Homo sapiens: one gene and its partner. The protein of the gene in region 1 interacts with the protein of each later gene in a biochemical or structural test. Each region holds a gene or a part of one and is shown in the gene's direction. Other genes may lie near its edges.

The links.
Region 2: the proteins of SPIDR (region 1) and FIGNL1 form a complex in vitro, tested with the Homo sapiens proteins (one study listed by BioGRID).

What each region holds. Positions count from the first base shown.
Region 1 is NC_000008.11:47,251,230-47,267,409, forward strand, and holds the start of SPIDR (DNA repair-scaffolding protein), read left to right. Parts: upstream 1-9,708; 5' UTR 9,709-9,729; coding exon 9,730-9,762; intron 9,763-16,180. UniProt on the Homo sapiens protein: Plays a role in DNA double-strand break (DBS) repair via homologous recombination (HR).
Region 2 is NC_000007.14:50,444,578-50,460,154, reverse strand, and holds the start of FIGNL1 (fidgetin-like protein 1), read left to right. Parts: upstream 1-9,804; 5' UTR 9,805-9,854; intron 9,855-10,431; 5' UTR 10,432-11,037; exon of another isoform or gene 11,038-11,865; 5' UTR 11,866-11,974; intron 11,975-12,099; exon of another isoform or gene 12,100-12,187; intron 12,188-12,857; 5' UTR 12,858-12,867; coding exon 12,868-14,892; 3' UTR 14,893-15,577. UniProt on the Homo sapiens protein: Involved in DNA double-strand break (DBS) repair via homologous recombination (HR). Recruited at DSB sites independently of BRCA2, RAD51 and RAD51 paralogs in a H2AX-dependent manner. May regulate osteoblast proliferation and differentiation.

The sequences.
Region 1 (16,180 bases):
TCAGAGCAGCTGCGAAGCTGGGTTCCTGGGCTCAGGATTTGAGGTACTGGTTCAATTTCCAAGGCACAAGTAGAGGCAGTTCTCTTGCTAAGATAGGGTCTTTTGCTGAGGCACACTCCAGCAGTTTGGGCCGAGGGGGCTGGGATGTAGCTATAGTTCTGACCCTGAGGGCAGGGTGAAGCCCTGACACAGCTATGGAGTAAAGAGGTGCTCTGGAGGCTTAGGTCCTGGGGAGCAGGACACAGCTACAATTTGGAACACAGAACCAAGAGGCTACAAAAAGAGCTTAGGTTCTGGGAGATGAGGTACCAAACAGTGGTCACTCTGGACCCTGGGATGGTGGGACATGGCAGTAGCCAAGGCTCTATGAGTCTAGGGGCAGCAACAGCAAGGACTTGGACATGGCAAGATGCCCCTGTGCTTGGGAACTGGGGGGAATAGAGCAGCACAGCAATGACTCCACTCTCCAAAGAGGTAGAGCACCTCAGCAGCTCAGACTTTGAGGGACTAGTCCAGTTCCAGGTAGGGGGGGCACTGTGGATGTTTAGCCTGGAGGTTGACATGACCCAGCTCAGGCAAAACTCTGATTCCCTGGGGTGTAAGGTGCAGCTAAAACCCAGAAAGCATGGCTACATGGGTCAGTGGAGGCTCAGTTCCCTAGGGCATGGTTCTATATCAGCTGTGGCACCGGTGGGTGCAACTGCTCCAATGTGCCAGAGGCTCAGAGCCCCGGGGCAAAGTGCTGCCTCACCTTTGGCTCTGGAGTGCCAAAGACATAAGGTCCCTGGGGAGCAGGGCATGCCTCATCATGGTACCAGGATTGTGTCTGCTATGGTTTGTAGGATGCTTGAGGTCCCTGGGAGGTGGGGAGTCACTTCAGCTCAACCATAAGGGGAGGGTGCACCAGTGTCTCACATGGGGGTGATGGAGCTTGGCCCTAGGGGATAGAGCTTGGAACAGCCTGTTTTGGGGATGACGTGCTACTGGGTAAGATGGTTTTAGTGTTGGCAAAGCCACAGGGATGAAGGGGTACATAGCTGCACACTCCCAGAGCACAACACACTCTAGCAGTGGCTCTGGTTCCAAGATGGTGCAGTGCAGCAGCAGCACAGACCATGGGGGAGGGCACAGTATCAGCTCTTTCTCTTAGATAGCTCAGCATATGAACTCTGGGGAGCTCCCTCAGTTGGGCTCAGAGCTTGTGAGGACTGTGGGAGCCTCTGGTAATGAAGATTGCATGTGTCCACGGTGGTGATGGGGTTTGCCGGGGTCCTCCTGCTCACCTTTTCCCTGCAGGAAGAAGGCTCTCCTGGTTCCAAGCTGATCCTGAGTGGATAGGGTGGCAGAGATGAGGTGTATCCTTTCCTTCCCTGTGCATCCATCCTGGGTTTCCATACTCTACAGAGTTTCTGCTGTTTCTTTATTGTTCTCCAGAGCTCTCCTTTAGTTATTTTGATTGAAATATAGTTGTTTCTTCACTATATTTTGATTTTTTGTTGGAGTTGGGGATGAACCTAGGAGCTTCCAGTCAGTCAACCATCTTGTGACATCCAAGAATTACTTTCTATTTTTCTTTTTGTATGGTATCTTTGCCTGGCATTGGTATCAGGGTAATACGGGCCTCACAGAATGAATTGGGAAGTGTTCCTTCATATTTTATTTTTTAAAAGAGATTGAGAATAACTGGTGTTAATTCTTCCTTTTTACTTTCTTTTTTTTTTTTTTTTTTTAGACAGGGTCTCACTCTGTCACTCTGTTACCCAGGCTGGAGTGCAGTGCTGCAATCATGGCTCACCGCAACCTCAAACTCCTCACCTCAAGCAATCCTCCCACCTTAGCCCTCCCAAGTAACTGGGACTACAGGCATGTGCCACTATGTCTGGCTAATTTTTTTTTAAATTTTTTTGTGGGCCGGGTGCAGTGGCTCACGCCTGTAATCCCAACACTTTGGGAGGCCAAGGTGGGCGGATAACGAGGTCAAGAGATTGAGACCATCCCGGCCAACATGGTGAAACCCTGTCTCTACTAAAAATACAAAAAAATTAGCTGGGCGTGGTGGCACGCGCCTGTAGTCCCAGCTACTCGGAAGGCTGAGGCAGGAAAATTGCTTGGACCCAGGCAGTGGATGTTGCAGTGAGCCAAGGTCACGCCACTGCACTCCAGACTGGGGACAGAGTGAGACTCCGTCTCAAAAAAAAAAAAAAATTGTGGACATAGGGTCTCACTATGTTGCCCAGGCTGGTCTCAAACTCCTGGGCTCAAGCAATCCTCCTGCCTCAGTTTCTCAAAGTCCTGGGATTACAGGGTGTTAATTCTTCTTAAATGTTTGGTAGACTTTACCAGTGAAGCCACCTGGTCCTGAATTTTTCTTCGTTGAGACTTCTTGTTAATAGGGTCTCTAAAGTGCATTTGTAAATTCCCAGTAATTTAAGCCTAATTTTGTGTCACTAAAGCAAATGATAATGTGCTGTAAAGTTGTGGTGAGTGATTTTCATTTAAAAGTTCATTTTAGAAATTTAAAAAAAAATTTATTGTACCACTTTGCCTCAATAAAGCAAGTTTGGTACACCCCAGATACGTGTTAGCCAGTAATAACTCCAGGCAAAACAATAAAAACTCTTAAACTCCCAACCAAAACAAAGGCAACCCATTTTAAAAATGGGCAACTGATTTGAATAGATATTTCTCCAAAGAAGATAGAGAAATGGCCAAAAAGCACATGAAAAGATGCTTAACATCATTAATCATTATGGAAATACAAGTCAAAGTCAGTAAGATACCATTTCACAGCCACTAGCATGGTTAAAATATTTTTTAAAGGGGAAAATTATAAGTATTGGCAAGGATGCCCTCTAACATGGCTGTAGGGAATATAAAATGGTGCAGCTTCTGTGGAAAAGAGTTTTGTGGTTCTTCAGAAAGTTAAACCTAAAACTGTAAATATAATCTAGTCATTCCCCTCCTGCATATATACCCCCAAGTGAAAACAGGTGTTCAAACAAAACTTGTCCACAAATGTTCAGCGTAGCATTATTCATAATAGGCAAAACGTGGAAACAACACAAAGGTTCATCAATTGATTAATGGATAAACAAAATAGTAATCCACCCAATGGAATATTATGCAGCCATTAAAAAGGAATGTAAATTAATATAGCCATTAAGGAAAAACAGTATGGACATTGCTAAGAAAACTGAAAAATAAAACTACTATGTGATCCTGCAATCTCACTGCTGAGTATATACCCAAAGGAACTGAAATCTGTGTGTCAAAGAGACATCTGCACTGCCATGTTCATTGCAGCATTACTCATAATAGCCAAGATATGGAATCAACCTGTGTCCATCAACACGTGAATGGATAAGGAAAATGTGGCATATATACACAATGGAATACTATTCAGTTTTAAAAAAAGGAAATCCTGTCATTTGCCACATGTATGAAGCTGGTGGACATTATGTTAAGTGAAATAAGCCAGACACAGAAATACAGATACTGCTGATCTCACATGTGGAATCTAAAAAAGTCAAACTCATAGAAGCAGAGAGTAGAATGATGGTTATCAGGGGTTGGGGTGAGAGATGGGTAGGATAGGCCACATTTCAGTTAGATGGAGAAATAAGTTCAAGAGATCTATCTATTGTACAAGATGGTGACAGTAGTTAATAACAATGTATTGGGTGGGCACACTGACTCATGCCTGTAATTCCAACACTTTAGGAGGCTGAGGCAGCAGGATCGCTTGAAGCCAGGAGTTTGAGACCAGCCTGGGCAGCATGGTGAAACCCTGTCTCTACAAAATTAAAAAAAAAAAAAAAAAAGTCAAGTGTGTTGGCATGCGCCTGTGGTTCCAGCTACTTGGAAGACTAAGGCAGAGGATCTCTTGAGCCCAGGAGGCTGAGGATGCAGTGAGCCGTGACTGCATCATCGCACTCCAGCCTGGGCAACAGAGTGAGACCCTGTCTCAAACAAACAAACAAAATGTATCATATACTTGGAAATTGCTAAGAGTAGATTTTAAGTGTTTTCAACCACAAAAAACCTAAGTATGTGAGGTAATGCATGTTTTAATTGGCTTGATTTAGCCATTCCACAATGTATACATATTTCAAAACATGTTGTACAACATAAATATATACAATTTTTGTCAATTAAAAGATAAGTTTAAAAAGAGAAAGTGGGACTTTTGGCAGTGAGTAGGTAATGAGGGTAAATCCCTCATGAATAGGGTGAATGCCTTTAAAGAGACCCCAAAGGGATAACTAGCCCCTTCCACCATGTGAGTGAGAACACACTAGAAGTGCCATCTATGAGGAATGGGCCCTTACCAGACACTGTATCTGCCAGAGCCTTGATCTTGGACTTCTTAGCCTCCAGAACTTTGAGAAATAAATTTCTATTCTTTTTTTTCTTTTCTTGAGACGGAGTCTCGCACTGTCGCCTGGGCTGGTGTGCAGTTGTGCAATCTCGGCTCACTGCAACCTCCGCCTCCCGGGTTCAAGCGATTCTCTTGACTCAGCCTCCCAAGTAACTAGGATTACAGGGGCCCCACTACCACGCCTGGCTAATGTTTTTGTATTTTTAGTGGGGACAGGGTTTCACTATGTTGGCCAGGCTGGTCTTGAACTCCTGACCTCGTGATCTGCCCACCTTGGCCTCCCAAAGTGCTGGGATTACAGGTGTGAGCGACTGTGCTTGGCCTAAATTTCTATTCTTTTTAAGCTATGCAGTTATGGGTTGTTAGTTGATGGGTTGTTATAGTAACCCAAATTGACTAAGAAAACCAACTAAGGCCTAAGGCCTAACATAGGCCTGGCACATAGTAAACTTCAATATTTGTTTGTTGAATGAATGAATGCACATTCCTTGAATAATCTGCATTTGACTCTATTTTCCACTCCTACTTTTTATATATATATATATAAACCATTTGTATACTTTTGAGAACCTAGATCCATGGTTCTCAAAGTGTGATCAGGAAAAAGAGATAAAGTGAGATTCACCAAAGTTGAAAACCTCTGTGCTTTGGGCTTTACCACTTATTGGGTTTGTGGCTTTTTGCAAGTTATATAACATGTCTGTGGTGCAATTATCTCATATGTAATCATAATTGTACTTCACACAATTGTCATAGAGATTTTCTGAGATAAATGATAATAATAATTGCTAACACTTCCTGGGCACTTACTATGTATCTGCTGTGTTCTAACCCATCAGGTGAGGCACTATTTTCATTTCATATAAAGGGATTAACATTGCCTGCACATATAAATGTCATATTATTATTATTAACATTATTGTAGTCAATGATTAAAGAAAAGGCTGACAAGGCCTTTTCTTCCCACCCTGAGTGCACGGATCTCCTAGTCGGATGTTTTGTGGGAGACCACTGTGCAACAGCCTGTTACTCCGTGCAATTGCATCCAGTCCAGTGCTTCTCACAGGTGAGCATGCATCAGAGTCAGTTGAAGGGCTTGTCAAAACAGATTGCCAGGCCTTGTCCACCAGGTTTCTGATTCAATTGGTCTAGTATGGAGTCCAAGAATTTGCATTTCTGACAATTTCTCAGATGCTGCTGATGCTACCAGCCCCTCACCAAACATTTTTAAAATAATTATTTTATTGAAATATAATTCAAATACCATAAAATCACCCTTTAAAGTGTACCATTCAGTGATTTGTTACAATATTCACAGTTGTACAACCATCATCACTCTAGAACAAAGTACACATTTTTCTTAATTTTTCAATCTGTTTTAAAAATAGGTATACAAAACAACATAAAAAAGTAGAGATGGAGAAGTCCTCCTCCCCTCATCCCAATCACTTGGTTCCTCCCCTCCACCAGGTAACCCCTTTTATTTCCTATACATCTATTTCGATGTAGCATTTCTTCAAGCAGATATAAGCAATATATGGTCTTTTCCTGTTTTCTTGCACTAGAGAGGCAGCACACTATGAATCATATTCTGTCAATTGTTTTTTTCATTTAGTAAAGCTGGAGATCATTATGAAGGTATTACCATGGCACATTTAACAGTCTCCTTACTCTCCAAGTAAACAAATATATCAATTTTTTCTAGTCTTTTGCTATTGCAAACTATGCTGCAAAAAATACCCTTACATACATATCATTTCACATGTGTTATCATTTCATATGTGTATCCTCTAAAATTCAGGTGTTGCCAAATAGGCCATGAAGGCTCCTCCATCACTAATAGGATTAAGGCCCTTATAAGAGGCTTCACGCAGCATTCAGCTAGCTTGCTTTCTTGCCCTTCTGCCTTCTGCCATGTGAAGATGCAGCAGGAAGGCCCACACCAGACACCAAATGCCAGCTCCTTGATCTCAGATTTCTCAGAGTGAGAAAGTAAGTATCTGTTCTTTGTAAACTACCCAGTCTCAGATATTCTGTTATAGCAGCACAAAACAGACTAAGACAATATGTGTGCAGGTGTATGTGTAGGATTAGTTTCCAGAAGTAGGACTGCTAGCTTAAAGAGTAAATACACTTATAATTTTGAAGCATATTTGATAGGAGTTGCATAATTTTGTACTTTTGTTAGCAATACATTAGAGGGCCCTTACCCCAATATGTGTTGTCCAGGACTTAGATTTTAGCCAATATGGTAGGTGTGCAGTTTAAATTTGCATTTCTCTTGTCATGAGTGAGACAGTACATTTTTCATATGTATAAAAGCCATTTGTGTTCCTTTCTCTGTGAACTGCCCTTGTCCTTTGCCCATTTTCTACTGGGTTTCCCCCAAGGAATACTCTTGCTTACTCCTCCAAGAGTAATTTATACTTTAGGGGGCTGTTTCTATATAACATCAATATGAACTATTCTTTAATTTTGCCATTTGTCTTTGCCTACTGTGTTTTTTTTGCCATGCATAAATTAGGGTTTTTATGTAGTTGAATCGATCAATCTTTCCTATTACGACTAGGACATTTTGAGTCATAGTTGGAAAGACTTTCTCCCCTTTCCCCCACTCTAAGATTATAAAGGAATCTGGTCATGTTTTATTCTAATACCTTGACATTTTTTCACGTTTAAATCTTGGATTCATTTATAGCCTAGAGCACTGTCATCTACCAGACTAAAAAAGAATATGGATGAGTAGATTCTAAACATTTCTCCCCATATTAGATCTTTCTTTAAATACAATCTTGCCCCATATATAAGACAGATGGAAGAGAGCTGCCCTGAAGGTGCAGCAGAGACCCTCCTGTGAGTCACACCCTCCCCAGACTCCATGGATCTCCATGGAATCCTTAGGATGGCTGTAAGCAGAGTGAAGACCACAGATATCTGCAGAACAGCAACTAGGCCAAAAAGTTTGATGAGAAAAAAGTTAAAAGAAGGACTTTCTGGTTTGTCTTGATGTTTGCCATTGAGTGTTTGCTGAGGAGGAAATGAGGCAAGACTGGAGAGGACTTAAGAGACCCTTTCTGCAGGGGCTCATCTTTATTATCAACAGTTCCCTTTTGCTGAGTTCATATGTTCAAGTGAAAAATTCCTCATGATTCTACTATGATCTGATTGGTGTAGTGGAGAATGCATCGACCTTGGTATCACATATGAGTTCTAATCCTGAACAGTTACTAGCTGTGCAGCCTCTGGCAAGTCATTTCTGTTTCACAATTAGCAGTTCATCCATAGTAAATAACTGAGTACTTTGTATATGGAAGACGCTGTGCTAACTGATAGAGATACAAAAACGGAGAAGATAGAAATGGTATTACCTTACAGCATGGAGGTGGAACCACATGGTAAACAAATAACTTTCGTAATTATTTAGATTCTAATTGTTATAACATCTTCAACAGAGCATGAGGTCCTGCGGACATGGAAGAGCAGGGAGGTTCAGGCTTGCTAGTTTAGGGAAGCTGGCCACCAGGTTCAGGTTTGACAGGCGCATAGGAAATGGCATGGCAGAGGGAGGCCAGAGCCTTTTAGGCAAAAGGAAGAGCAAATGCTTATTAGACCCCAAGGCTGCAGGAGCTAGGCACGTTTGACCACCGAAAGGGAAGGCCAGTATAGACAGCATAAACCTCACTGTGGTGTCTGTGTTGAGAATGGATTGTATGTGTGTGCTGTGTGAGGGGCAAGAGTGGATTAGGGGACATGGGTTAAGAGCTACTAGCAGTCTGGGCAAAAGATACTAGTGGCCTGGGAAACAGTGGTAGTGGAGAGTGGACACATTAGTAAGACACACAAACGTGTTCACAAAAATTCCTAGGTTTCTGCGTGAGCTGTGGCCAGGTGGATGTCCATGCCACTACTGAGATGGCGAATTCTGAACAGGAGGAAGTTTGGAGAAAAACCCCAACATTTCGGCAGGACAGCACCTCCTGGTGGAGATGACAAGCGGGAGCCTCACCACAGGCCTGGTTGTGGGAGTGAAAGGGGGACTCCGGGCGCGGTCGGGTGCACTTACTGTGCTAAGACAGCAAGGCCCGGCGGAGGTGGCAATGGCAGACCTGGTTTCTCGGCGGAGTCCCAGTGGGAGGCCCGGTGTCCAAAATCCTCAACTAGATTGGGCATGCCGTTTATCTTGTTCCAACTGTTGACAGTAATGGCACTAGCAATAATGTCCTTCCCAGGCAAAGATGGTTTTTCTTCCGTGTTTTCAGCCACTGCAGAGTGGACATCTACTATGAACCAAGTATCTGCGGCTTTAGGTACCAGATTCAAACACAGAATGGTGGCAGAACAGGGACTAGGACGGAGAGAAAACCTGAAGATGGATCAACCAGGAAGCAATGCATTCTCACAGAGGCACAAAAAAATGCCTCTGAAACAGAAGATTCACCTCCACTTCTGCGTCCTTTTGAGGCAACTTTCTGAGCATCCTTTCCTCCTCCCCAGGCCAACGCTTTTCCACCTTGTTAAACTACCCGGTAGCTTTCTCCATGGGAGGCGCCTTCTTCACAGTACTCGGACCCAGTTACACTTGTGGCCTTCCCCGGCTTCTGCTGGGCCGGCTATGGTCGACGCCGCACCGTCTCAGGCCCACTTCTCCTGCGGGAGCGGCGGCCCCAGCGGAGCCCCTGTGCGCCACGGCGAACGTGATAGGAATGCAATCTTCCGCCCCTTCAGACTCTGGCACCCCGTAGCCTTTCCTCAGGCTCCACGAGTTCTCCCGGTGATGTGATGACCGACATGGCGTCTGGGCTCTGAACACAGACTTTACTCCTTCCCCCCGGCCCCGAAACATGGGGAAACCACACCCTCTCTGCTCCAGTCACCAGCAGCCACTCCCATTCCTTAAGTATCCATTATTGCATGTGTAGCCTATTGCATGTGTAGCCTACTTCTGGTTTTCATTTTTATTTAAGGTCAGTTGTTGCCTGACAACACAGACGACAGTAACTTAATTCGAAAGACAATACTTGGAGGCGGCCCCCGCTCCAGGCACCAGCCCAGCAGCTCCCCCGAACTCCCCAGGAGCTCGCGGGCGAGCAACGCCACAGCCCAGAGCGAGCTCCGCGGAACCCCCAGCCCCGGGGAAGGAAGCTCGACTCTCCGCGGGGCACTCCTTCCGGGCTCCGGGCCCGACTAGGCCATCCGGGAGGCCCTGGAGCGCCGGGGCCGGAGAAGCCCTGCCCCCCGCCGAAGCCCCGCCCTGCGCCCGAGCGCCCGCCAATGGCAGGGCGCGGTGCGGCGCGCCGAGGTGGGACGGCGGCGCGCTGAGGAGGCGGTGCGCTCAGGCGGCGCTCCCGGAGATGCCCCGCGGCAGCCGCGCTCGGGGCTCTAAGGTAGGCTCTGGGGCGGGAGTGGGCGCCGCGCCGTTTCCCGCGTTGCGGGGAAGCGGCGGGCCGGCGCGGGGCTGGCCCCGTTGTGCTGGGGTGAGAGAGGGTGGGCGTTGGGGGTGAAGGGCTAGGTGGTGGCGGGTCCCGTCTGCGCGCGTGGAGCAAGCCCGCGCAGTGGGGTACCGCCCCCAGGTCCGGCTCCGGTCCAGGCGTGCGGGCCGGGCCCTCAGCGGCGGTACGGAAAGCGAGGGGTGGGACCGCCGAGGGACGCAGCGGGCGGGAGCATATGTCCGCCTCGGGGGTACTTGGCCTTACTCTTGTCTCTTTTTGATTCTGGTGTAATGTACCAAACCGCAGGGAATCCTGGCGTGGTTTTACCCGTCTCCGCGGATAATCCACTGTCAACTCTGTCTCTCTTCCTGCCGCACTCGGAGGGGACTGTGCGGCTGACTGCCCAATCCGTGGGCACCGCGCTGCCTCGGGTTCCAGAACGGGAGCGGGTGCCTAGGAATCGTTGCTTGAATGGTGTTTGATTGCACCTGTATCCGCGAGTGCATCCTTTTTTGTTCTGCTAATTGTGCTTGTCATGGCATGTGTCCTTTATCGTTTTAAAGTTTCTTCTAACTTCCTTGCTTTCAAATACGTTTGTCTCATAGTAAAACGGTTTTTAAAAAGCAAACACAGGACCTCCTTTCTTGACTCTTGCCTTTACTTGAAAACTTCCTGGAAAAAATAGACCACATATACTGGTTCAACTTCTTTACCACTACCATGCTTTCTCGCTTCTCAAATACCATTGATTATCAGCCCACACTATCAGTTTTGTGACTGGCTTTAGGGAATAAAGAAATTCATTTCAGGCACCTCTTGATTATAAGATACAGTCTGATTTCTGAAGCATTAATGTGTGAAAAAAATCAAGGAAATATATAAATTTGCTAAATCCAGTGTAAGTTGTTTACTTGATCATTGGAGCGTTTGACACATTCACCACCTGCTTTTATTTCTTTTGGAACATCCATGATTGTTTTCCTGTCTTGCAACAGCTCATTTTCTTCTCTTTACTGTGTTCGTGCCATGTTCTAATTTTTGACCTTGTGCTTTTTCACATGTTCCATATTTGCTTTGGACAATGTCATACATTGAAGTTAACTATATAGATGACTTTCAGATCTATATTAGATCTTTCCCTAGAGCTCAAACTTAGTGCATCACATAATCATCATCTCACCCTTAGTCCTCCAGGCCCTAACAGTTTCTCTTGACTTAGAAATCTTAGTATTTTTGAATTGACGTTCACTTCTGGTCTCTTCATCTTGTCATTTTTCAAGACTCTTTTTTTTTACTCAATTTTTTTTAGTAGTCGTACAGTTGTCTATTGTGTAATACGTTGCTGAAAACTGAAGCAGTTCATAACAAATGTTTATTATATCATAGAGTTTCTGAGACTCAGGAATCTGAGAACGGCTCAACTAAGTGGTTGTAGTTCAGGATCTCCCACAAGGCTGCAGTCAAATAAAGGGTCGTTGGAGCTGGAGAATCCAGTTCCAAGCTCACTCACGTGGTTGTTTCTTGACAGCTGCATAGGGCAGCTCACAACAGGGTCCTGGCTTTCCCAAGAGCAAGAGAGAGAGCAACAAGATATCGGTCCCCGTGTCTTTTATAGCCTAAACTCAGAAGTGACATCCCATCTCCTGTCTATTCATTACATGGACCAACCCGGTACAATGTATGAGGAGACTATAGAGGGTCCCCAGGAGGTGGGGATCACAGGGGCCACCTTGGAGGCTGGCTTCCACAGTATTTCCCAGGAATTTATTTTTTGTTTCTGTCTCCCTCGGTCAGTCTCAAAAGTACTTAATGGTTGGAGTGTTGATGTGTAGTGCCGGCTAGCATGCTCCCATTCCATCTTCAGAGGTGACTTTCCCTTAGGCACTACTTTGATTATATTGTTAGTCCTCTATCTAAATCTCATTTTACTTCTTATTGGCTACATCATAATTTACTGCAGAACTTATCCTGTGTTTAGTGCTTTATATGTATTAACTAATTTAATTATTTTAACAGTCCTGTGAGGTAGATACCATTAGTCTCATTTTATGGATGAGGAAACTGAGGCTCAGCAGAGAGGCTAAGTAATTTGCCTAAGGTCACACAGCAGTTAAGGGAAGAAGCTAGGATTTGTATCCAGGTAGTCTGCCCCAGACCTTGCTTTTGTTCAGGCTCTCAGCCTGTTATTCACAGCCTCCATAATATCTGTGTCTTATTCCTTTACAGCTTTGCTCATTATTTATCTTATAGGTAAACTAGACTACTGCGTCACTGTACTTGCTTGCCCCTTGGTGGTAATTGCGTATGTTCTTGGTTTGGAATAATGCCAGTTCTCCCATTTCTGCTGATTGAAACCTTTTTTTTTTGAGACGCAGTCTCGCTCTGTCGCCCAGGCTGGAGTGCAGTGGCGCGATCTCGGTACAGGCGCCAGCCTCCACACCGGGCTAATTTTTTTTAAATTTTTATTAGAGACAGGGTTTCACCGTGTTAGCCAGGATGGTCTCGATCTCCTGACGTCGTGATCCGCCCGCCTCGGCCTCCCAAAGTGCTGGGATTACAGGCGTGAGCCACTGCGCCCGGCCATGAAATCTTAATCATCCATTGAGGCCTACTTCAAATCCCACCTTCTCCCAAATTATCCCAGCTATAAATGAACTTTCTTCTGTATGTTCTTGGTTTGGAATAATGCCAGTTCTCCCATTTCTGCTGATTGGAATCTTAGTCATCCATTGAGGCCCACCCCAAATTTCACCTCCCAAATTATCCCAGCTGTAAATGAACTTTCTTCTGTAGTCTGTGGAATTTTATGTAAATAACTCTTACTATTCCATGTCTTACATTAGGTTTATTTGTGTCTACACCTTTATTCCCTTATATTCTAGACATTTAAGATTAGGGACTATTTCTTCAGCCCATATTCCCCAGAATACCTGTCATATCCCTTGTATGTACTAGATATCTGATGAATTAATGAAAGGAGAACTAGTTTAGAAGATTTGCAAGTATTCCAGGTGTGAAGAAACAGGAGGAAATACCCTAGTCCGAAGACTCGGATATCTGCCTCAGCAGTACAGCTGAATGATTTTGCAGTTTTGGACAAGCCACACAGATATATCACGACTCTTAAGATGAAAGGTGGTGTGGTTATGGACTAAGGTGGTGGAATTAGGAATAGAATAGAAAGGACTGGGTTGACAGACTACAAATGGAAGGTGAGATTTAGGCAACTGCAATTGAAAGAGGAAGAGGAGGAAACCCATGGTGATTCAGAAAGTCGAACCTATGAGAAGTGAGAAAGTTGTTTGCCTCTTAACTGATGTTAGGATATATAGATATATCCTATATATCACATATATAGATATGTGGTATTTAAGTCCCAGGGAGATTAGGGCAGTCAGTTGCTCAAAGGCTGGGGTATCTTAGTTCTTTCCTCACTCCCCTCTCCTCCATGAGTTTCTCCTGCCCTAGCCCCTCACTATCCCTTAACATGCTGTGATTCTTCCCTTTGTGCCTTGTGTTCTCCCTTTCCTTATGAAGTAGCCAAGGACGACCACATATACTCCTGTTCTTGGGCAGCAGCTTGCCTTTTGAGATTTTCTTTTTTTTTTTTTGAGATGGAGTCTTGCTCAGCCACCCAGGCTGGAGTGCAGTGGCCCGATCTCGGCTCACTGCAACCACTGTCTCCTGGGTTCAAGTTCTCTGAATAGGGCAATATACCTAACATTGAGTTGTCGTTTCTTTATAAAATGGGGTTAATACCTATATTGCTGGGTTGATGTGAGGATTAAATTATGAGAATGCATGCGATGATATACCGAGCATATAAACACTCAATAAATGTTGGTGATAATGAAAGCAATTAATAATGAAACACCATGATAATTAAAGAAATCATATGAGGACAAAGATATTGTACATCCTCTACTGCTTTGTCTCTAGATTTCCCTGGAATTGCTGTCTTTCAGCTTCTTGAACAAGAAATAGGAAAAAGGCTCATTTTCAAGTTTTTCAGTGATGGCAGGAAATTCTCATAGTTATCTTGGTAGGAGTACCTCATGGTTCCAGTTTAAGGCCTTGATAGTCTCATTGAATGATTTACTGGTGGCTCTACATCTCAGAATTAGACTACTTAGTATTGACATCTCAGTTGTCTTTTTTTTTTTTTTTTTTTTTGAGACAGTCTTACTCTGTCGCCCAGGCTGGGGTGCAGGGGTGCTATCATGGCTCACTGCAGTCTTGAGCTCCTGGGCTCAAGTGATCCTCCCATTTCGGCCTCCTGAGTAGCTGGGACCACAGGCCATGCCACTGTGCCTGGCTAATATTTAAATTTATTTTGTAGAGATAGAGTCTTGCTGTGTTGCCGAGGCTGGTCTCGAATTCCTGACCTCAAGCCGTTCTTTCTCCTTGGCCTCCCAAAGTGCTGGGGTTACAGCGTGAACCACTGTGCCTGGCCTAGAGGTTGTCTTATTCCTCAAACCAAAGGGAAAGAGAGGAAAGAGAGCTTTTATTGAAAGCTTTCTATATGTCAAGCACTTTGCATAGAGTACCTCATTTAAGGGAAAACATGTTTTCTTTTTAGTCAAAATAATACATGTTCATAGGTAAGGTAAAATAGTACAAAAAAAGTTTGTTGTAAAACTCAGCAGTCCCTTGCACATCTCATTCCATTTATTTTTATTGAGATAACTGTAAATTCACAGACAATTGTGAGTAATATAGAGAATAATTGTTTTATAAACTAAATCTGGAGGCTGGGCCTTGCTAGATCAAAGTGTTGACAGATTTCATGTCTGGTGAGGGCCTGCTTTCTGGTTCACAGACAGCCATATTCTTACCATGTCTTTATATGGTGGAAGAGGTAAAGGAGCTCTCCAAGGTCTCTTTTATAAGGGCATCAATCCCGTAACTTCTAATCACCTGCCAAAGGCCCCACCTCCTAATACCATCAGGTGATCTGCCCGCATCGACATCCCAAAGTGCTGGGATGACAGGCGTGAGCCACCATGCCCGGTCTGAAGTTTTTTTTTTTTTAATACAACATAAAACTCTCATGATTTATCGAAGTTGTTGTGCATATCAGTAGTTTCTTTGTCTTTTTTTTTTTTTTTTTTGAGTTGGAGTCTCACTCTCTTGCCCAGGCTGGAGTGCAATAGCGCGATCTCGGCTCACTGCAACTTTCCGCCTCCCCAGTTCAAACAATTCTCCTGCGTCAGCCTCCCAAGTAGCTGGTACTACAGGCACCTGCTGCCATGCCTGGCTAATCTTTTGTATTTTAGTAGAGACAGGGTTTCACCGTGTTGCCCAGGCTGGTCTTGAACTCCTGAGCTCAGGCAATGCAATCCACCCACCTCGGCCTCTCAAAGTGTTAGGATTACAGGCATGAGCCACTGTGCCTGGCCAATAGTTTCTTTGTTTTAATTGCTGAGTAGTGTTCCATATAATGGATATACCAGAGTTTGGATTAACATTTATTATTGAAGGACCTCTAGGCTGTTTTCAGGTTTTGGTTATTGCAAATAAAACTGCTATAAACATTTGTGTACAGGTTTTTGTGTGAACATAAGTTTTCATTTCTCTGAGATAAATGCCTAAGTATGTAATTGCCAGAACCTATGGTAATTTGATGTTTAACTCTATAAGAAACTGACAAACTTTTCCAAAGTGGTTATATCTGTATAATTTTGCAGTCCCATTGGCAATGTTGTTATTCAGTTTTATAGATAATAAAATCTACCCTTTTAAAGTGGAAAATCCAGTGGTTTCTAGTATATTTACAGAGTTGTACAAATGTTCCTAATTGTAGAATATTTTCATGACCCCAAAAAGAAACCCCATAGCTATTACTAGTCAGTCACTCCCCATTCTCTCTTCCCTCATCCATTGGCAACCACTAAGCTACTTTCGGTGTGTATGGATTTGCCTATTCTGGACATTTCATATAAAGTGTGGTCATTTTGTGACTGGCTTCTTTCATTAAAAATAATGTTTTCCAGGTTTATACATGTTGTTGCATGTATCAGTACTTCATTCCTATTTATTTTGAATAAATTTTTTATTGCATGGACATACTGCATTTGAAAAATCCATTTATTAGTTGATAGACATTTGGATTATTTCCACCTTTGGGCTGTTAAGAATAATGTTGCTTTGAACTTTTTTTTTTAATTGAGATCCGGTCTCATTATATTGCCCAGGCTGGTCTCAAACTCCTGGCTGGGCTCAAGAGATCCTCCCATCTCAGCTTCTCAAGGTGTTGGGATTACATCCGTGAGCCATCGCACCTGGCCTGCGTTGAACATTTGTATATGCATTTTTATGTAGACCTAAGTTTTTCTTTCTCTAGCAGTGGAATTTTTGGGTCACATAATAACTG
Region 2 (15,577 bases), on another chromosome or scaffold:
GCAGAGGGGCTCCTCACTTCCCAGTAGGGGCGGCCGGGCAGAGGTGCCCCTCACCTCCCGGATGGGGCGGCTGGCCGGGCGGGGGGCTGACCCCCCCCACCTCCTTCCCGGACGGGGCAGCTGGCCGGGCAGAGGGGATCCTCACTTCCCAGTAGGGGCAGCCGGGCAGAGGCGCCCCTCACCTCCCAGATGGGGCGGCTGGCCGGGCAGGGGGCTGACCCCCCCACCTCCCTCCTGGATGGGGCGGCTGGCCGGGCGGGGGGCTGACCCCCCCACCTCCCTCCCGGACGGGGCGGCTGGCCGGGCCGGGGGCTGATTCCCCCACCTCCCTCCCGGACGGGGCGGCTGGCCTGGCGGGGGCTGACCCCCACCTCCCTCCCGGATGGGGTGGCTGCCGGGCAGAGACGCTCCTCACTTCCCAGACGGGGTGGTTGCCAGGCGGAGGGTCTCCTCACTTCTCAGACGGGGCAGCTGGGCAGAGACGCTCCTCACCTCCCAGACGGGGTCGCGGCCGGGTAGAGGCGCTCCTCACATCCCAGACGGGGCGGCGGGGCAGAGGCGCTCCCCACATCTCAGACAATGGGCGGCCGGGCAGAGACGCTCCTCACTTCCTAGATGGGATGGCGGCCGGGAAGAGGCGCTCCTCACTTCCTAGATAGGATGGCGGCCGGGCAGAGACGCTCCTCACTTTCCAGACTGGGTAGCCAGGCAGAGGGGCTCCTCACGTCCCAGACGATGGGCGGCCAGGCAGAGACGCTCCGCACTTCCCAACCGGGGTGGCGGCCGGGCAGAGGCTGTAATCTCGGCACTTTGGGAGGCCAAGGCAGGCGGCTGGGAGGTGGAGGTTGTAGCGAGCCGAGATCACTCCACTGCACTCCAGCCTGGGCACCATTGAGCACTGAGTGAACCAGACTCCGTCTGCAATCCCGGCACCTCGGGAGGCCGAGGCTGGCGGATCACTCGCAGTTTGGAGCTGGAGACCAGCCCGGCCAACACAGCGAAACCCCGTCTCCACCAAAAAAATACGAAAACCAGTCAGGCGTGGTGGTGCGCGCCTGCAATCGCAGGCACTCGGCAGGCTGAGGCAGGAGAATCAGGCAGGGAGGCTGCAGTGAGCCGAGATGGCAGCAGTACAGTCCAGCTTCGGCTGGGCATCAGTGGGAGACCGTGGAAAGAGAGGGAGAGGGAGACCGTGGGGAGAGGGAGAGGGGGGAGAGGGAGAGGGAAAGGGAGAGGGAGAGGGAGAGGGAGAGGGACTTCTTTATTTTTTTTAATGTAGCCATATGCTCATGCTATTTTTTTTCCCTGTAGGAATCAAAAATTGAAGAGAGATATATCTGAAAACTGGAATAAGAAGCAAATAAATATCATCCTGCCTTCATGGAACTCAGCTGTCTGTGGCTTCCCATGTCTTTCTCCAAAGTTATCCAGAGGGTTGTGATTTTGTCTGCTTAGTATCTCATCAACAAAGAAATATTATTTGCTAATTAAAAAGTTAATCTTCATGGCCATAGCTTTTATTCATTAGCTGTGATTTTTGTTGATTAAAACATTATAGATTTTCATGTTCTTGCAGTCATCAGAAGTGGTAGGAAAGCCTCACTGATATATTTTCCAGGGCAATCAATGTTCACGCAACTTGAAATTATATCTGTGGTCTTCAAATTGTCTTTTGTCATGTGGCTAAATGCCTAATAAACAATTCAAGTGAAATACTAATTGTGTCAGATGATCATCTTGTTCTATGTTGTATCAAATTTATTCTTGTGATACAGACATTCCCTCCAAAGTAGACAAAGATACAGCATCCTTGGATGTTTTTAAACGGCATTCATTTATTCAGCAAATGTTCACTGAGTGCCTAGTATATGTCAGGCACTGTTCTGGATACATTAACAATACACAGGTTTTACTTGAAGATGACTTCAACTTCTGTGGAAATAAAATTAGAACCAAGAGTCAACCTGGAGCAATGAGATCGAGGTCTCTGCTGTGATGGGAAGGATTCTCTGGCTTTCTGGGCCTTGATTTTCTGGTCCGACAAGTCTATCTGTCCTGTAGTATCATGATTGATAAGCAACTGAAGAGTACTTCTGTAAACATTAATTCCAACAAGGATATGGTATTTACTCAATCTCACTTTAAGTTCACTATCTGTATTGGGAACCATTTTGCTTTTAGAAACATGTGTTTTAATCCTAAGATTAGTTATTGTCCTTTGAAGACTACAGAACTATCAAAGGCACTGTCAGAAAGGGTCCTTGGGTTATTACCAAGTATATTTGAATTTCAAAGACCTCAGATATCTATGTGAACTAAGTGAATGATACGATCTGTTACTCAAAAATCTGGAAATATGTCAGATGCCAAGTAGTTCCCCATCTAATTTAGTCAGGTCATTTGTTCTCTACTCAACAGCAAACAAGACCTGTTCTCCATCATGATGTGGGGACAGAGGCTGTGTTTTTGGGGCCCACCAGGGGCCACCCTTGATAGGACCAGTGGAGTGTGGAGTACTCAGGTTGAGTTGAGGCTGGGATGTCTAAATTTTACAAGATTATTTTTCAGCCCGTGAGTTAAGATTGCTGCAAGGGCTCCAGTGTGAGCCACCAACATCATTGATACCAGCTCTCTGCTTTAGTGGGCTCATCCAGCCTCATCCACAAATATACTTCAGAAAGATGGCTGAGACCTGATGGGAGGGAGGAGACTGGGTGGCAGGGGCCAACGGGGATGCTGTACAGAAGCAGGGCAGGAGGCCAGCAAGTGACTGAAGATTTCCTCCCTCCGAACTGGCTGGATCCTTTTGATGGAGAGTCTAAGACATCAGCTTAGACACAGACCCAACAGAGAGAAAAGCTTGTCTGATTTCTCGCTCATTTCTAGGTAACTCATAGCAGTTCACCCCACCTCCTGACTTCTCCAGGTTCCTCCATAAAGTGGTTCTCAGATCTGAATCCCCCAGCCCTAGAAACAGGAAGAATAACTTCCTCCCAGTTTATTTAACAAGAACACACCCATAGCACTTGCTGTATGCCAGGCACTGTTACACGTGTTTTAAAGTATTAATTTAATACTTATTTTAAAATTCTACGATGCGGGCTCAATTATTATGCTCATTTTACAAGTGAGAAAACTGAGGCATTGCAAGGTTTAGTGATTTATCCCAAGGTCATATAATCAGTGACCAAGCTGGGATTGGAGCCCAGTCAGCCTGGCTCTAGAATCCATGCTCTTGCCCAGTAAACTATGCTGCAAAAGATGCCATCTGCTACCCAGGATTAACCATTTCTGAAGGTAACTGGCAGTGAAGACATTTATTCTCTTCTGGGTAAAGCCCTATCTTTGCCTACCAAGGTAAAGTCTTGGACCCTAGACCATCCCTAGGGGGCCCCTAGACCCCACATCCAATGTGGGGAAGTTTTTAAAGTTTTGGATTATTCAGACTAATCTGTGGTCAATACAGAGCATCTTTATTTAAATACATATTCAAGTTAGTGTCAAAAAGAGTGCACAAAGTGCTGCTGGCACTGGAATTAGATGTTTCCTTACTGACCTCTGGTATCTCCTGATAACAGGCCCCTCCTGCTTAGTGTTGGGAAAGTCCCAGATTGATCTAGACACAACTAACAGCTGATATGAAAGATTTGTCCTGGAATCACATGTCTCCTCTCTAAAATCCAGCAAACAGCAATACTCCCTAAACCTGGAGAATCTCATTGTTGCTGACCACATGCCCATCACCAAGGAGCCTGCAGGAAAGCCCAAGACAAAAAGGGGAGCAGGTGTCACTGGGTGGCCCCTTGATCATCATGAGGGTGTGCCACAGTTCAAAGAGAAACAAGAGAGGAGAAGACCCCAAGGGAGGGCAGTTCTAATATCCACTGACTCCACACCCGCACCCCTTAATTCAGAAATCCAACAGACATGACAAATTAGAAACTGATTCTGCTGGTATGCAATTCAGAAAGTCTACATTTGAGGAAAGATATGAACATTGACTAACGGCTTTTTTATCTAGGGATCATTTCATTGCTTTTCTAAATTATGTAAATATCCAAACGTCAAACACTATAATTTTTTTTTGCCTTTTCAACTGCATTTGATATCAAAATCTATTTCCTTAATACCTCTGGGTTACTTGCCATAACTTACACTTGTAATAAGTAGTAGAAAAAAATTAATAAGAAAGCACTGTGAGTGTAAGTTGCTTGCATAAACTGGATACATCTGGAGCTACCAATTTAGAGAAACTTGTGAATGGTTCCCCAGAGCACAGATGTGCAGTGGATGGTAGAGGAAAGAGGAAGAAGATAACAGAGCAGGCTGTATTGCAGCAGACCTTGTGAATCCCAAAGTGCTCCAATGTGGAAGTGAGATCTAGACCCCAGGATTTATGAGATGGATGTGTCCCCAGGTGTTGTGAGAGAGGAGCCAAGTCACACAGGAAGAGTTCTAAATGGAAGGGTGTCTCACAGGACAGACTCAAAGAGGACTCAGCAGCTGTCTTCACATTTTACACTCCCTTTAATTTGAAGAGTCTCCTCTCTAGCTCCAAAGACAAAGTGAAAGAGACAGATTTTCAATACAAAGAAAAACTTAGAAGTCAGCCTATCAGCAAGTGGAAGGTGTTTTCTTACAGGGCAGTGAATTCTCCATTGTAGGTGCTCAAATGGAGATAGGAAAAAACCAAGAGTTGGGACATCGGAAAGTCAGTCTTCTATGAGACTGACTTTTCAGTCCATGAGATTGGACTGAAAATTAGAAAATTCTTCAGCTTCCTTGTATATCTGAGATTCCAATGTCCTGTGAAAATAAGAGAATTTGGCTACTTTATGAAACAGCAAGGTTAAGCAGCCTAAAAACAGTAGAAAAAAACACCAACAAGGTGGGTTATTTTTTCCTTCCCAAACTCTAAGCAAGGAAACCTAAGAGGAAGAACTGGCCAGCCCAGCCATAATAACACCTGGCACCTGGGCAGTGCTTACCGTGGGCGAGGCTCCGGTCTAAATGATCTTCAGACCTCAGCTGGGTTGATTCTGAACAATTCTCAGTAGTGGCTCCTGAGCAGTGGAGCTAGGACTTGAACCCTGGAAAGCTGACTCCATAGCCCCTGCTCTTAATCACTCCACCCCTGCCGCAGTGCTGTAAGAATGCAGGGCATTCGTTTCCTGTGGCTGCTGGAACAATGGACGGCAGTCTCAGTGTCTTCAAATAACATAAACGTGTTCTCTCACAGTTCTGGAGGCAGAAACTGAAATCGAGGTGTTGGCAGGGCCATGCTGTCTACAAAGTCCAGCTGTTGGTAACCCAGACATTCCTTGGCTTGTGACAGCATCACTCCAATCTCTGCCCCCATCTTCACATGGCCTTCTTCCCTCTGTGACTCTTTTCCTTTTCTTTATAAGGACACCAATCAATCAGATGAGGGCCCACCCTAATCCAGAAGGACCTCATCTTAACTGGATTATGGCTGTAACAACCCTCTTTCCAAATAAGGCCACATTCACAGGTGCCAGGGGTTAGGGCTTCAACATATCTGTTTGGGGGATGCAATTCAACCCCTTACATACTGTACCAAACTGGAGGCACCTAGAAGTGTTGACTCCAATTGGTAGCGCAGTCCTTGAGGAAAATGACGACCCAAGCAAATGTTTCCTTCAATCTCTGCTCTACCCCGTTTCAGGTGCTATAGAAAAATTACGGGAGGGCATTGTTTTAGAGTGAGCTCCTGCACTAGGTCCCAACAGACCAAACTAAAGTGGAGTCACTCATGCTAAGTGCCATTTAACCAAGCTGAAACTTTAAGAAAGCTGGTGGTCCCCAAATAGACCAGTTTTTCTTGAAAACAAGAGTCACAGCAACCCATCAGAAAGAGTTCAGTCTGCCTGAGTCAGAGTAATAAGGAAGTCCCATTTGCTTTAACCATGACGAGAAAAGTAGTCTGAATTAAGCTGACACTAACCAATCAACCTTTAAAATAATACTGTTTCCTTGTTCCCACCTTACAAAACCACTGTTCTGCCATTCCCCAGTGGGAACTCTAATTCTATTTTATAGAATGGAGGCTACTGGATTCATGAATCATGAATAAAAGCCAATTTGATCTGTAAATAATTTTGTCTTTTGACACCAGGAGAACACCACCTCCCCCCTCACCAGCTGTGTTTATGACAATGATGCCAGAGGTAGCCTCTTCACATCCCTTTATGATTCATTCAGTATGGCCAATGAAAATCTTTTACTAAAATTGTGCACTTGCTTCACCCTGGGCTCACACATCTTACTCCTCTGCTGGAGGGCTAGAACACCATCCCCTCAATCCTGGTACTTTTTTCTTCCTTACCACTGAGTCAGGGAGCTGAGAGGTTTGGAAGTCAGTGGGAATCCACACAGAGAAAGAACTGGATTTAGATTGGGCTGTTTTCCCTCTGAGCTTTGTCCTGTTGGCTTCCCTATCTCCTCAACACCACCTGCCTCCCGCACCCACCGACACACACATCTCCAGAATGTAACTCTCCTGGCTGACAGGGAAGCACATTATTTAGGGCCGTATTATCCCCTCTGCTCAAAAACAAATGAGCTCACCGAAGTGTACACTTGCATTTATCTGAGACCATGTTTATAAAATTCATGAATATGGAAATGGGCAGCCATCTCCCAGAATCCCTCACACCAAGAGAACTGGCACTGTCTGCTGTAGGTGAAAACCTCTTCCCTTGAAGGCTCAACAACTTCTACCCAGAAGAAGAAAAGAACAGCATATTCTTTCTCATACACACACACAAACACACACACACACACACACGCACACAGTATATACCACCAGTCTGTGGTCTTGGAAGCAAAGTTTAATAATTGAATAGCTCAAGCACTAAACTCTTACATATTATTAAGATACTATCCTAATATGTCTCATTTGTCAAAGATGGAAAAGTTTTGATATGACATAAGGGTTTCAATCCCAATAGGAATATTAATGGTAACAATAAAAATAACATAGCAACACGGTTTCTGTTGAATGCCTGCCACATGCCAGCAACTGCTTTGATAATTAAAGAATTATATCTTATGTTGATTATAATCCTTATAATGGCTTCCTGGGTAAGAAAGGTTTATTACTGTTTTACATTTGAGGAGGAGACTAGGGTTCAGAGAGGGTGCAGAAGTGAGTTACACTTTTGCCAACCAGGCCAGAAGATGAAAGCCGCTGGATTGGGAAATGCTTTTGTATCAAAAGCACAAAATGAAGTGGCTAGTGTTACTTGTTGGAAAAAAATTAACTTTGGCAAGCATAAATATAATTCAGTATTTGAGCAATACTTTTAGGAGGGTAACAGAGTGGTTTATGTGAATTCTCCAAAATGCCATCATGAAAATTTTGATGATGAAAATCACCTAAAATTGCTAATTACCTGTCTTAGCCTGTCTAGGGCTACAAAGTACCATATGCTGAGTGGCTCATAAACAATAGAAATTTATTTCTCACAGTGGAGGCTGGAAGTCAGAGTGCCAGAATGGTCGAGTTCTGGTGAGGGCTCTTCCAGGTTGCTGTCAACTCTTTGCATCCTTAGGTGGTGGCAAGAGGGCTAGAAAGTTCTTTGGAGTCTCTTTTATTGTATTTTATTTTTTGGAGACAGTCTCACTCCGTCCCCCAGGCTGGAGTGCAGTGGCGCGATCTCAGTTCACTGCAACCTCCACCTCCTGGGTTCAAGCAATTCTCAGGCCTCAGCCTCCTAAGTAGCTGGGATTACAGGTGCCCACCACAACACCTGGCTAATTTTTGTATTTTTAGTAGAGACAGGGTTTTGCCATGTTGGCCAGGCTGGTCTCGAACTCCTGACCCCAGGCGATCCACCTGCCTCGGCCTCCCAAAGTGCTGGGATTACAGGCATGAGACACTGCACCCAGCCTCTGGAGTCTCTTTTATAAGGATACTTACTATTCTCATCCATGAAGTCTCCACTCTCATGACCTAATCACCTCACAAAGGCCCCGCCCCTTAAAACCATCACATTGGGCTTAGGATTTCAACATACAAATTTTGGGGGGACATAAACTTTCCATCCCTAACATTACCCAAATAGTATCTATATAGTCATTTCTAAATATACACGTATTTAGAAATTTCTAAATAGCCAGTAAACATACAACTGACTTGGCCTTGATATAACTGTTTTCATTTTCTTTTATTTTCATTCTACATGACATATTTTGGGTAATTATAAAATAATTAAAATTAGTTGATAAAGTATGGAATTAGAATAAAATAATTTTCTATTACTATCTAAGCCATGAAATGAATTAGGAGATGCTGTTTTCAGTGAAACGTCTTCTAGTTTTTAAAGTGCATTGTCCAATTCCTTTTTATTTTGTGAAGATTTTAAAAACTTAAAAAAAGTCTTCAAATTGTTTGTGCCTTGCATTTCTTTAAATCTTATGTTTAAACATCATGTGCTGCTAGTTGCTAGTCATTTTCTCTATCCCCTGCCCCAGACCCTCTCTTTCTCAGGAAAGGATATCCAGGGATCCGGGTCCCAGTTAGTCAAGGAGATATAAGAGGAAGGCTATGAGGCTTTCTGGGAAACATTTTCTTTTTCCAAGAGAGAAGTGTTCAGAGGGAAAAGGTCCTTTCTCAGTTTGGCTCCCTCTTTGTGTTTTAGATCTGGTCATGTGAGGCTGCCTGGCTTGGATTGTGAGGGCATCTCTCGACAATGAAGTGACAAGCCTGGGGAGGAAAATCCACAGGCGAGAAGGTGGCAGAATGGAGAGATGGTCCTTCATGACTTCTTTGAGTCACCAGGTCCAGATTTCCCGCCAACCTCCAGTCTTCTTGTTATGTGATCTGATATCATTATTTACTGCAGAGGCCACTGAGTGGATGCTCTTACTTGTGTCTGAAAATCCAATTCACTAAATTAATCAAAATACGGCACTCTTCTTTTGAAACCTTGCTCCAGAACAAAGTGGAAGGTAATGATGGGGTGCTTTTCAAAGTTCCAGGGAGGTGTCCCTACACAGCAGACAGCTGTCCAAAGGAATGTAGATGTTGGCTGCGGGGAGATCTGAGTTGCCAGACTCAGTCAGAACAGGTGTCCTCTCCCTTATTTTATCTTAAACATGCATGTCATTTTTGCATGCTACTCTATGCGGTTCTTTCAGCCAGGGAACATTGCTGAGCACCCGCTCACGTGCTGTATGGAGCGCAGACTGCAGGGTGCGAGGGGCGGAGGTGATGTGCTAGGCCTGAATTCAAGAGGGGGCGCAGCCACAGGCCCCGCGATGCCGGGGTGGCCTCTTGTAACGACGTTTTAACCGCTGACCTAAGTGGATCCGCTCCTCTCCCGCCGCCCGCTCCCTGCCTGCAGCACAGGATGGCGGCTGGCTTTCCCGAGTGGGCGCAGGTGAGCCACGCTTGCTCTCCCGGGTGGGCGCAGGTGAGCCATTGTTTGCTCTCCCGGGTGGGCGCAGGAGAGCCACGCTTTGCTCTCCCAGGTGAGCCGCCGCTCGCTGTCCCGGTGAGGGGAAGTGAGCCACGCTCTATGGGAATCCTTCGAATCTTCATTCAATTTCCATCGCCTCCTTGTATTTATTTGGGAGTACTTTTAAAAATGAAGCCTATGCACAATGATGTAATAAGCGTTTATAGAACACCACTGGTCGGAGCTAGGGCCTAGGTGGCGGTGCCCGGGCCCAGGTGCCGCGCCCACGCCCCGCGCGCCGAACGCACGCACGCACGCACTCACGCACTCACGCACGCACGTACGGCGCGAGTCCGAGGGCGACAGCAGCGCGCAGGCGCACGTCAGTCCCCGCGCTTTTCGGAGGCTGCCAGCGTCCCACACCAGCCGCAGGTAGGATGCGGTGACGGGAGGCGGGGCAGGGGCGCTGCTGACCCCTGTGGAGCATCAGGGTTGGGGCGTAGGGGAGAGGCGGGCGTGTGCCTCTGGAATGCTGGGGGTCGCGGGGCGGTGACTTCGCGGGAGGCCGTGGGAGGCGGGAGCCAGGCAGTGGCTGTGCCCTTTTGCTTCTGTCTTAGCGGGAGGGTGGCTGACCCGCTAGCCCAGAACCAGACTCATCCAGGATTAGGAAGCTGGGGCCCGGCGTGGACGGCAGGCTCGGGGCCAGGTCTGCGGGCGGCTTCCTTTGGCAGAGCCTGTCCGGGGGCGGGGCCGCTTACCGCAGGCATTTACTGGGCCCAGCGGGGCTCTGGGCGCCCACAGCGGGGGTCAGTCAGTTCCCCTGTGACCCAGGCAAGCTCTTAATCTCTGTGATGAGAAAGAAGGGCTCATACCTTTCAGGGGTCATCGTGAGGAATCAGAAGAAGCAGTATTTTATAGAGTATTTTCTAAGTGCTGAGTCCTCTGTCTAGTGCTTTGCAGAATTAAAATACCTTGTCAGCTCAGTGATGTTGCTGCGCTTCTTTTATAGGTGAAAACCGGCAGAAAGACATTAAGAGATTTTCCTGCAGTCACTGCTGGCAGATGATAGAGCCAGGATTTGAAAGCAGGCAGCCTGGCTCCAGACCCTGTGCTCTTAACTCCCGTTTTGCATCAAGAACAGAATCCTATGAAAGGCTTGCACAGTGCTTGGTACTGAGTAGGCACTCCGTCAGTATTTTAGTAGCTATTATTCCAAAGGACACTGTATTCTAGGTACTAAGACAATGTGAATGGAATGGAAAACAATTCCTCCCTGCAGAAGCCAACTGTCTAGGAAGACAGATAATGACATTATTAAAATAATCAGAACATTGGCAAAATAAAGAAGATTGAAATGCAGTTCATATGACAGTGCTAATTAATCATACTTTTTAGATCTAGGAAAGGCCATAAAGGTTAAATTGACTTGGAAATGGTAAACAAGACAATGGTTGTGTCACTGATCGGTGATGGCCAGTTTTTGGTTATCCTTATTTGCCATTTAAATGATTGAATTGAAAGGAAGAAGTAAGACTTGGAAGATGAATATTGAAGGAAAGGTGAAGATGGAAAAGAGAAGGGGGTTTATTCTGAGAACAGTGACTAGAACTCTGAGGTATGGTAGAAATTTCAGGATAACAGATGATAAAGGGGAATGAAGCCATGGAGAGGAAGAGAATGATAATATTAATTGTGAAAGTTTGTGTCAAGTGTTTTCTGAGTCACCTTTCTTTCAGTTTCTCATTTCTAGTATTGTATAAATGAGTTTAACATCAAAATGGTATAGTGAAAAAAAGGATGAACTGCTTGACAGAAGAGGTCAGATCTAGTTTTGACTCTAGCTTATTTAGCTTTACAGCTTTAAATAAATTACAGTGTCTTTAAAGCTCTGGATCTTAAGTTTTCTAATTGTTTTTTAAACAAAGATTTGTGAACACCTACTTACAATGTGACAAATGTCTTTGTAAGGCATTATGGGAGATAAAAGCTGCATTAAACCTGGCTGTTGTACTTACAAGTAATTTGGAAGGCAAAATTTCAAATACTTGAACCTAAAGTAGGGTTTCTTGGTTTTCATTTAATTGAAATACTGTTAGGAAACAAAAATTTTTCATAAATTTTTCTTGTGGATATGTAAGTAAATTCTATATATCTAGCAATATGATACATCTATAGTTCTGTTTAAAGGTAACAATGTGAGGAAGCTTATGCGAATAACTTGACAGAAGAAATCTAAAGTAAAAGCATTTTCCTAGTAGGCTAGCTTGTTCTCTTATTTCATTTATTGTAACAGTTTCACTTTTTAATAATTATGTGAAATTAGGAAACAGATATTCTAGGGCATTCTGTTTAGGGTGATGAACTTATTCATGAATGTTATTAAAACCATTTAAATATGCCATAGTTTAAATTTGTGATCCATGCTGTTCAATCTGTGACCTAGGATAGCAGCATCAAGGAGCATTGTGTACATGCAGAAGTGCACAGTACCTGGAGTGAAACTGCTTGTGTTCGATTTCTGATACCATTCATAACTGGCTGTGTGATCTCAAGTAAGTTCTTTAAGTCTCTCAGCCTCGGTTTGTACATTTGTGTGATAAGGATAATGATAGTTTTCAGATTATTTTCATAGTCATTGCTTGATTTGATTCTTCCAATGGTTCCTCTCACTTTGCAGATAAGAAAACTGAAGAACCAGCTGGGCGCGGTAGCTCACGCCTGTAATCCCAGCACTTTGGGAGGCTGAGGCGGGTGGATTACCTGAGGTCAGGAGTTCAAGACCAGCCTGACTAACATGGCGAAACCCCATCTCTACTAAAAATATAAAAATTATCCAGGGGTGGTGGCAGGTGCCTGTAATCCCAGCTACTTGGGAAGCTGGGGCAGGAGAAGCACTTGAACCCGCGAGGTGGAGGTTGCAGTGAGCTGAGAGCGCCACTGCCCTCCAGCAGCCTGGGTGACAGAGCGAGACACTGTCTCAAAAAAAAATAATAATAAAATAAAAATAAACCATCAGTGATAGTAAAAAGCTCACTTAAGCTCATTCACCTAGTTTTATAGATCAGACTTAAACCTCTTGTTTATTTTGTTTTGCTTTATGTATCTATAGTTCCATTGTTTTTAAAATTTAAAATTAATTTTAAACCTTATGAATGCTTTCCCTACAGATAAAATTATGTAACTAGAACAATTTAACTCATATAAATTATTATTTAATCAAGTCCTTAATTTTGAAGACTTCATATTGATATGTCTTGAATACTTGAAATCTATAGTTAACTAGATATTTCTCTTATAACCTGTCCTTATAAATCTACATTATAAATAAAAAGTCCAGTGTCCCTTCCTTCAGATTAGCAGAAGTTTCAAAATTACATTTAAAGTATTTTCTTTGTTTTCCTTCATACTGATTTTCATTTTTATTGTTTGTTATAGAACCTCTAAAATGCAGACCTCCAGCTCTAGATCTGTGCACCTGAGTGAATGGCAGAAGAATTACTTCGCAATTACATCTGGCATATGTACCGGACCGAAGGCAGATGCATACCGTGCACAGATATTACGCATTCAGTATGCATGGGCAAACTCTGAGATTTCCCAGGTCTGTGCTACCAAACTGTTCAAAAAATATGCAGAGAAATATTCTGCAATTATTGATTCTGACAATGTTGAATCTGGGTTGAATAATTATGCAGAAAACATTTTAACTTTGGCAGGATCTCAACAAACAGATAGTGACAAGTGGCAGTCTGGATTGTCAATAAATAATGTTTTCAAAATGAGTAGTGTACAGAAGATGATGCAAGCTGGCAAAAAATTCAAAGACTCTCTGTTGGAACCTGCTCTTGCATCAGTGGTAATCCATAAGGAGGCCACTGTCTTTGATCTTCCTAAATTTAGTGTTTGTGGTAGTTCTCAAGAGAGTGACTCATTACCTAACTCAGCTCATGATCGAGACCGGACCCAAGACTTCCCGGAGAGCAATCGTTTGAAACTCCTTCAGAATGCCCAGCCACCTATGGTGACTAACACTGCTAGGACTTGTCCTACATTCTCAGCACCTGTAGGTGAGTCAGCTACTGCAAAATTCCATGTCACACCATTGTTTGGAAATGTCAAAAAGGAAAATCACAGCTCTGCAAAAGAAAACATAGGACTTAATGTGTTCTTATCTAACCAGTCTTGTTTTCCTGCTGCCTGTGAAAATCCACAGAGGAAGTCTTTTTATGGTTCTGGCACCATTGATGCACTTTCCAATCCAATACTGAATAAGGCTTGTAGTAAAACAGAAGATAATGGCCCAAAGGAGGATAGCAGCCTGCCTACATTTAAAACTGCAAAAGAACAATTATGGGTAGATCAGCAAAAAAAGTACCACCAACCTCAGCGTGCATCAGGGTCTTCATATGGTGGTGTAAAAAAGTCTCTAGGAGCTAGTAGATCCCGAGGGATACTTGGAAAGTTTGTTCCTCCTATACCCAAGCAAGATGGGGGAGAGCAGAATGGAGGAATGCAATGTAAGCCTTATGGGGCAGGACCTACAGAACCAGCACATCCAGTTGATGAGCGTCTGAAGAACTTGGAGCCAAAGATGATTGAACTTATTATGAATGAGATTATGGATCATGGACCTCCAGTAAATTGGGAAGATATTGCAGGAGTAGAATTTGCTAAAGCCACCATAAAGGAAATAGTTGTGTGGCCCATGTTGAGGCCAGACATCTTTACTGGTTTAAGGGGACCCCCTAAAGGAATTTTGCTCTTTGGTCCTCCTGGGACTGGTAAAACTCTAATTGGCAAGTGCATTGCTAGTCAGTCTGGGGCAACATTCTTTAGCATCTCTGCTTCATCCTTAACTTCTAAATGGGTAGGTGAGGGGGAGAAAATGGTCCGTGCATTGTTTGCTGTTGCAAGGTGTCAGCAACCAGCTGTGATATTTATTGACGAAATTGATTCCTTGTTATCTCAACGGGGAGATGGTGAGCATGAATCTTCTAGAAGGATAAAAACAGAATTTTTAGTTCAATTAGATGGAGCAACAACATCTTCTGAAGATCGTATCCTAGTGGTGGGAGCAACAAATCGGCCACAAGAAATTGATGAGGCTGCCCGGAGAAGATTGGTGAAAAGGCTTTATATTCCCCTCCCAGAAGCTTCAGCCAGGAAACAGATAGTAATTAATCTAATGTCCAAAGAGCAGTGTTGCCTCAGTGAAGAAGAAATTGAACAGATTGTACAGCAGTCTGATGCGTTTTCAGGAGCAGACATGACACAGCTTTGCAGGGAGGCTTCTCTTGGTCCTATTCGCAGTTTACAAACTGCTGACATTGCTACCATAACACCGGATCAAGTTCGACCCATAGCTTACATTGATTTTGAAAATGCTTTTAGAACTGTGCGACCTAGTGTTTCTCCAAAAGATTTAGAGCTTTATGAAAACTGGAACAAAACTTTTGGTTGTGGAAAGTAAGTGGGATACTTGGAATCAAGGCATCTCTGTAGTACAGTCTTCTTTATTTTTTAGCATAGAAAGTTGGGGATGTGTTAATTGTATTTTTAAGAATATATTCTAAGTTCTGTACTTCAAATAATAGCACAGATTTTACATCTGATTGACATAGTGTATGTTAATGTAAGTTTTGCTTTCCAGTGATTACCTGATACGTAAGCCTATTTGAACAAAGTGAGAATGAACTTTTGTTTCTAAGAAGTCTTTATCTTGAAGCTATATAACATGAAAAGTGAGCTCAAATTTTTTTTAGTTGAAGATTACATATAAAGTTGTGTCTGATTAATATTCATCTTTTATTGAAGAAAGTGCCTTCTGATGGCCACATAATTCTTAATGTCAGCTAGTATAATGGTTTACATTTGGACAAAGTATTGCTTAGTGTTATTTAAGTAGATTTAAGATCTCAAAGCTAAAGTGCCAATTTTTACTTTCTTCAGCCAATTTGTTACCTCTTTTATGGTTTTTAATTTTTATCAGGACTAACATTTTCAGAAATAGCAAGGTGTGATCTAGTATTAGATTCACAGAACTGAAAGGTTAATTAAGAATGTTGGTTATTTTCACGGGAGCGTGTGATATTTAACATTAATATTTTATTTGACACTACAGCCTGTAATACTGCTCTCTTTCAAAAACAAGTTTT